Linked DNA regions of Homo sapiens: region 2 is linked to region 1. The links come from fine-mapping of genetic effects on gene expression. A gene starts in region 1. The other region holds a variant in brackets. All regions are shown on one strand. Distances are from middle to middle. Region 1 holds the start of CRHBP (corticotropin releasing hormone binding protein). Region 2 holds the start of S100Z (S100 calcium binding protein Z).

Region 1 (2,907 bases):
CACTGTCTGTGGTCTGAGGACTGCTTACAAAGTTGGACTGTGGCACGAAGGCCTCCTGATTAAACCAACAAAGAGGCCGCCTCTCCAGAGCTCAGAATTGTCCTGACATGAAAATAATCAAGTTCTGACACTGCCAGGATAATTACTGTTTAATTTCGAGTATTTTAAAACTGAAAATATAGCCATTCCTTCCTTTATAACTCTGTATTATGGTCTATTTGTAATAATTGTAATAACAATGCTTGGTGCAGAGACTGGAAAGGGGTAGGAAAGCCAATAGTGGAGCATCCTCATGTTTCCCACAGTTTTGGACACAAAGAAGAAATTCTCTTCTCTCCTGATAAGCAGAGATAAGCTTATACTTATTTCCGGATCCCTAAGTCATCTTTTTAGCCCTGCAAATTTGCTGGTGAGCAGTTACAATAAAGCTTCCTGGCAGTTCCTTCTACCAGAGTGTTAAAGTAATCCAGGTATTTGAAGGCACGAAATGGAATGACTTAATCTCATCTCTCAGTGGTTCAGATGGATGCGAAGGTCATGGCTACAGCTACCTGGTCTAGGAGTGTGTACATCATGTAAACATCCAGGTCAAGTGACAGAGCTCAGCTAAAATCCAGAAGTCCCCTGACACCAGAGTTAGTTTTCCATGAAAGAAATGCCTATAAGAAACTGGACCAGGATAAAGCAAAGAGTAAGGGGCAGGAAGAAAGCTTATAATTGCATTACTGCAATCTTCTGCAAAATCAGACTTCTGCTTCTGTTCCACCTCTTTAAAGCTGAAAATGCCTCAAGTTTCTTACTGAGAGACATGAGAAATTCCATGAATACTAAATTCTTTGACAATTTCTAGCATGGTTTCATCCAAGGTTATGTGATGAGGCTGCATAATATAGGCTCTATATGTTTGGGTATTTTATGCGTGTATGTAACTTTGTCACTTTGATTTGCAAAATGGAAAATTCCCTGAATGCCCACAGAAAAGTATAATGTAGCATTTAGCAGGTCAACAAAATGCACTCCCTTATTCTTTGTCTCCGCCTCATTCTCCAACACTTTAGTGCACTAAGTTGTAGTGACTGAAATCATTCTTGGTGAATAATGCTGGGCCACGCTGAAAATTTGTGGCTGAGAGCTGGACCCTCGTCATCGCCACGTACTCTGTCAATGAGACAGGGTAACCCATGGTTACTGAGCTCCGATCAGTTAAGGGGCAGAGAGCCTCCGCTCCCCACTGCTCTATAAAAGAGACCCAGCAAAGGGACCCTACCAGCTTCTAGCTCTCAGTCTGCGCGAGGGTGTAGGAAGGAAAGCCCAGGACCTCCGGAGCAGAGCACAGCAGCTGCAGAGGCAAGGCCAGCATGTCGCCCAACTTCAAACTTCAGTGTCACTTCATTCTCATCTTCCTGACGGCTCTAAGAGGGGAAAGCCGGTACCTAGAGGTGAGCCACCCCTGGACTGACCCATCTCACCTTCCTTGCGTGTTAGCCCTAGGCGGCAGGCAGGCTGCCTCTGCTCGCAGCCTTTTGGGGTTCGCTGTTTCTTCCCTCTCTGCTGGATGCTGTCTTGCCCCTGGTTTCCCCTATCCTGTTCTCCCTCCTTGCCTCTGAGCATCCCAGACTGCCTGCCTGCCTTCCTCTGGCCGCTGGGGATACCCTGGCCTGATGGAGAGGGTCTAAGACCTTCCCGTCTTCTCCGGACACGGGAAAACATTACCCCTCTCTCTTTATTCGCTATGCTGAGTGGCAGGGAGGGTGCCCCGCTCCTGGTCCCCTTTTTTATCCCCAGCCCTTGAACTTTTCCGGACTGACCTATGTTTCTTGCCAGCTGAGGGAAGCGGCGGACTACGATCCTTTCCTGCTCTTCAGCGCCAACCTGAAGCGGGAGCTGGCTGGGGAGCAGCCGTACCGCCGCGCTCTGCGTGAGTCGAGGCTGCCCGGCTCGCGGGCGCCCGGGACGCGGGGAAGGTGGGACTCTGTGCGGGGGGCAGAGGGCTCGCGGACATCTCGGGGAAGGGGCTGGCCGGAACCGCCAGGGGCGCGGTCCCCTTAGCTAAGGATCGGTCCGCGGAGGCGCGCCAGGAGCGGGAGAGGGTGGCGCGCCCGGGGCGCAGGAACCCAGCGCAGCCTAGGCTGGAAGTCGGGGCGCTGGGCACTACAGAGCCCGGGAATGGGGCGCGCGGAGAGCGGCCGCCCGAGGACGGCGCTGCGGCGGCTGCAGCCCGGGACTTATTGCCCCATGCCCTCCTCCCCCAGGGTGCCTGGACATGCTGAGCCTCCAGGGCCAGTTCACCTTCACCGCCGACCGGCCGCAGCTGCACTGCGCAGCCTTCTTCATCAGCGAGCCCGAGGAGTTCATTACCATCCACTACGACCAGGTCTCCATCGACTGTCAGGGCGGCGACTTCCTGAAGGTGAGGCGCCCACGGCCAGCCAACCTAGCCGGAGGGCGGCACGGGAGGGTTGGAAAGGGCTGGGGCGCTGCACCCAGCGTGGGGCTGCTGAGCGTAGGTAGCCAGTGGCACTTCTTAGACACTTCGCTGGTGCCCGAGTCGGAGAGGCGCGTTCGAGGACCCCCACACGGCGAGAATCTCGCCCTTACCCGAAGACCTCGACCCACACACATCCAGTGGGGCTGGGGCCGGTGCCTCTGGACGCTGCCATGGTTTAAATTCCCTTCTGGGCGCTTTCGAGGCCCTAGGAACTTCTAAAGACTTGAACTCGCAGCGCGGAACTCTGACGCAATCCAGGGCCGAGGAAAAATGATTAAAACCCAACAAGCTCGAGTGCTGGGGTCCACCAAGCGGGCCGTCTTGGTTAGAAGGCCCGCCCCACACGTCTCACATCTGAGCCCGCCTCGCTCCTGCTGGTCCACGCTCGGCAGAGCCGTTCCGAGAGCACAGAGGCTGTC
Region 2 (2,907 bases), 100 kb before region 1:
GGAAGCCAGGCTGGGAGGATCACTTGAGCCCAGGAGTTCAAGACTAGACTGGGCAAGCAACATGGTGAAACCCCATCTCTACAAAAAAATACAAGTATTAGCCAGGTTGTGGTGGCATACCCTGCAGTCCTAGCTATTTGGGAGGCTGAAGTGGGAGGATCACTTGAGCCTGGGAGGTTGAGGTTGCAGAGAGCTGTGATTGTGTCTCTGTACTCTACCCTAGGCAATGGAGCAAGACTCTGTCTCCAAAAAAAAAAAAAAAAAATTTATCTTTGAATTCTTTCTTTCAATATATTGTTATCTGTATTTCTGTACTGAGTGCTGTGCTTCTTGACCTGTCTCTGCCCTTTTCTGTGTATTTATTTATTTAATTGACAAGTAAAAATTGTATATATTATGGTATACAAATACAGCTTGATGTTTTAATTTATGTATACATTGTGGAATTATTAAGTCAAGCTATTTGACTTAATTGCCCCATATACTTGTCATTTTTTGGGGGTGATAAAGACACTTAACATCTACTGTCTTAGCAATTTTCGATACACGATATATTGTTATTAACTATAGATAGCATGCTGTACAATGGGAGCTCTTAAACTTATTCCTCCTGGGCCAGGCGCAGTGTCTCACGCCTATAATCCCAGCACATTGGGAGGCCAAGGTGGGCGGATCACTTGAGGTCAGGAATTCAAGACCAGCCTCACCAACATGGTGAAACCCCATCTCTACTGAAAATACAAAAATTAGCCAGGCTTAGTGGTGGGCGCTTGTAATCTCAGCTACTTGGGAGGCTGAGGCAGAAGCTTGAACCAGGGAGGTGGAGGTTGCAGTGAGCTGAGATGATGCCACTGCACTCCAGCCTGGGTGACAGAGCAAGACTCTGTCTCAAAAAAAAAAAAGAAAAAAAGAAATGCTGTGAGGAATTATTAGCCATGAAGCTTCAGCAGGCAGGTTAGGTAGCTTTTCCAGTCACATACTGGTGAAGTAAGGATTTGAACCCCAAGACTCTGGTGCCAGAGTAATTGCTCTTCACCATGAGGAGGCACCAGTGGGGGAGTGTTGGATCACAAGCAGTTTCTTTTTCTTTTTTTTTTGTTTTTTTGAGACGGAATCTGGCTCTGTCACCTAGTCTGGAGGGCAGCGGCGAGCTCAGCTCACTACAACCTCTGCCTCTCAGGTTCAAGCGTTCTCCTGCTTCAGCCTCACGAGTAGCTGGAATTACAGGCGCCCGCCACCATGCCTGGCTAATTTTTATATTTTTAGTAGAGATGGGGTTTCGCCACGTTGACCAGGCTGGTCTCAAACTCCTGACCGCAAGTGATCCACCCACCTCAGCCTCTCAAAGTGCTGGGATTAGAGGCATGAGCCACTGCACCCAGCGCAATTTC[G/A]TTAGAGACTTGGTGCCTTCCCATTTCTTTTACTCAGCAATATACCAGCTTTAGGTCCTAAATTAAACCTCTTCCTGCTTTCCCACCTGATGAAGAAACGTGCCTGCAGTGTGGTGAGTCTGGACCACGCAGACTCAGAACAGCACTACTCACAGCAGGGCCTCTTGCTCGCTCTAGCTGCTGGGAGGAAAACGGCTTGCTAATCTCCACGCCCAGAAATTCAGACAAGAGCATTCTCCTTATCTCATCTGCACAGGAAGCAGGTCTAAGGTAAAAGATTATTTTTGTGGAAGATTCTTGCTTTTCAGTCTAGTGGTTGAAGTGTGAGCCTGGCAGGCGTTGGATTAGAGAGGGCAACAAGAGTGGAGGTTGTGAGGTGGGGGGTTGCCTTGGGGCTTCCACTCTAAAATGTGGCCTTACCTTGGCCACAAAGGGGTCGGGGGGGTGGGGGAGAGAGAGAGAGAGAGAGAGAGGGAGAGAGCAGCCTGATCATAGCTCGGAGCGTAGAGGTTCTGGTAAGTTCCTTGCCCTAAAGAACACTTAGTTCATTCTGGCTCCTTTCCTGGTGACCATCCTGGCTTCCTGCTTGGCCTTCACCTCACCTTGAGAAATTCAAGTTTCATGTTCTTGTCCAGGCCAAAGACCCAGAAGAACCTTCAAGGTGAGGCTTGGCCCCTTAGATCCACGCCGTGATTTCGCTTCTTTTTCCTGAAGCCTGCACAGATGCCAGTGTAAGCCCACTCCCAGGAAGTCACAGCAGTGGTCTATGCTCCTCCTCTTCACACTGGCCAGTGCTGGGCATGCCTGGACAATCAGCCCTGGAATGGCTGCTCTCAGCCTACAGAAGAAGAGAGGGAAGAGGGATGGAGGGGCTGGGGAGAAGTTGGTGAGAGGACACAAAATTTGGGTTAGACAGAGAAATAAAGTTTTTTTTGTTTTTTGTTTTTTTCTGAGATGGAGTTTCACTCTGTCACCCAGGCTGGAGTGCAGTGGTGTGATCTCAGCTCACTGCAACCTCCACCTCCCACTTGGCTTCCCAAAGTGCTGCGATTACAGGCATGAGCCACCGCTCCCCAGCCTCCTCATGGGATTTTTGAGGATGACATAAAGGAATACATTTAAACTGCCTAGAAGGGTGCTTGGCCCAGAGTATGTGCTAATTAACGTTGGCTACTATTATTTTCCTTCAACCCAGTGCCGGTGCAGGTCTAGAGGAAAGCATGAGGTGATACAGGGGCACCCAGAGGCGGAGTGCTCCCAGGAGCTGAGGGGCATCGGAGGCTTCCCTGGAGGACTGGCACCTGAGCAGAGGAATGGGCAGCACAGTGGCAGTGCCACGTGTGCGGCACAGATGGTGCAGAGGGGATGGGTGGGCACACTGCGGGGAGTTTAGATTTAGCCAGGGGATGGCAGGGCCTGTCCAGGAGGTTAAGTGAGGAGCTCAGGTGTGCCTCCCAGCAGGCAGGGGAGGCTAATTTTGAAGAAGAGCAAAGTAGGTGCAGGAGGTGAGTTGGGA

Evidence for each region. PIP is the estimated chance that this variant, and not a neighbour inherited with it, causes the effect.
Region 2: its variant is fine-mapped to the expression of CRHBP in whole blood (TOPMed, PIP 0.97).

Annotation. Positions count from the first base shown.
Region 1 is chr5:76,951,777-76,954,683 of GRCh38, forward strand. It overlaps CRHBP (corticotropin releasing hormone binding protein), which reads left to right and starts at 1,269. Exons shown (of 7, transcript NM_001882.4): 1 at 1,269-1,439; 2 at 1,825-1,918; 3 at 2,253-2,410. The coding sequence starts at 1,359. It also overlaps a transcript of S100Z not described here. RefSeq lists an enhancer at 1,995-2,681.
Region 2 is chr5:76,848,495-76,851,401 of GRCh38, forward strand. It overlaps S100Z (S100 calcium binding protein Z), which reads left to right and starts at 1,520. Exons shown (of 5, transcript NM_130772.4): 1 at 1,520-1,661. The variant G/A (reference allele first, on the strand shown) is at 1,392.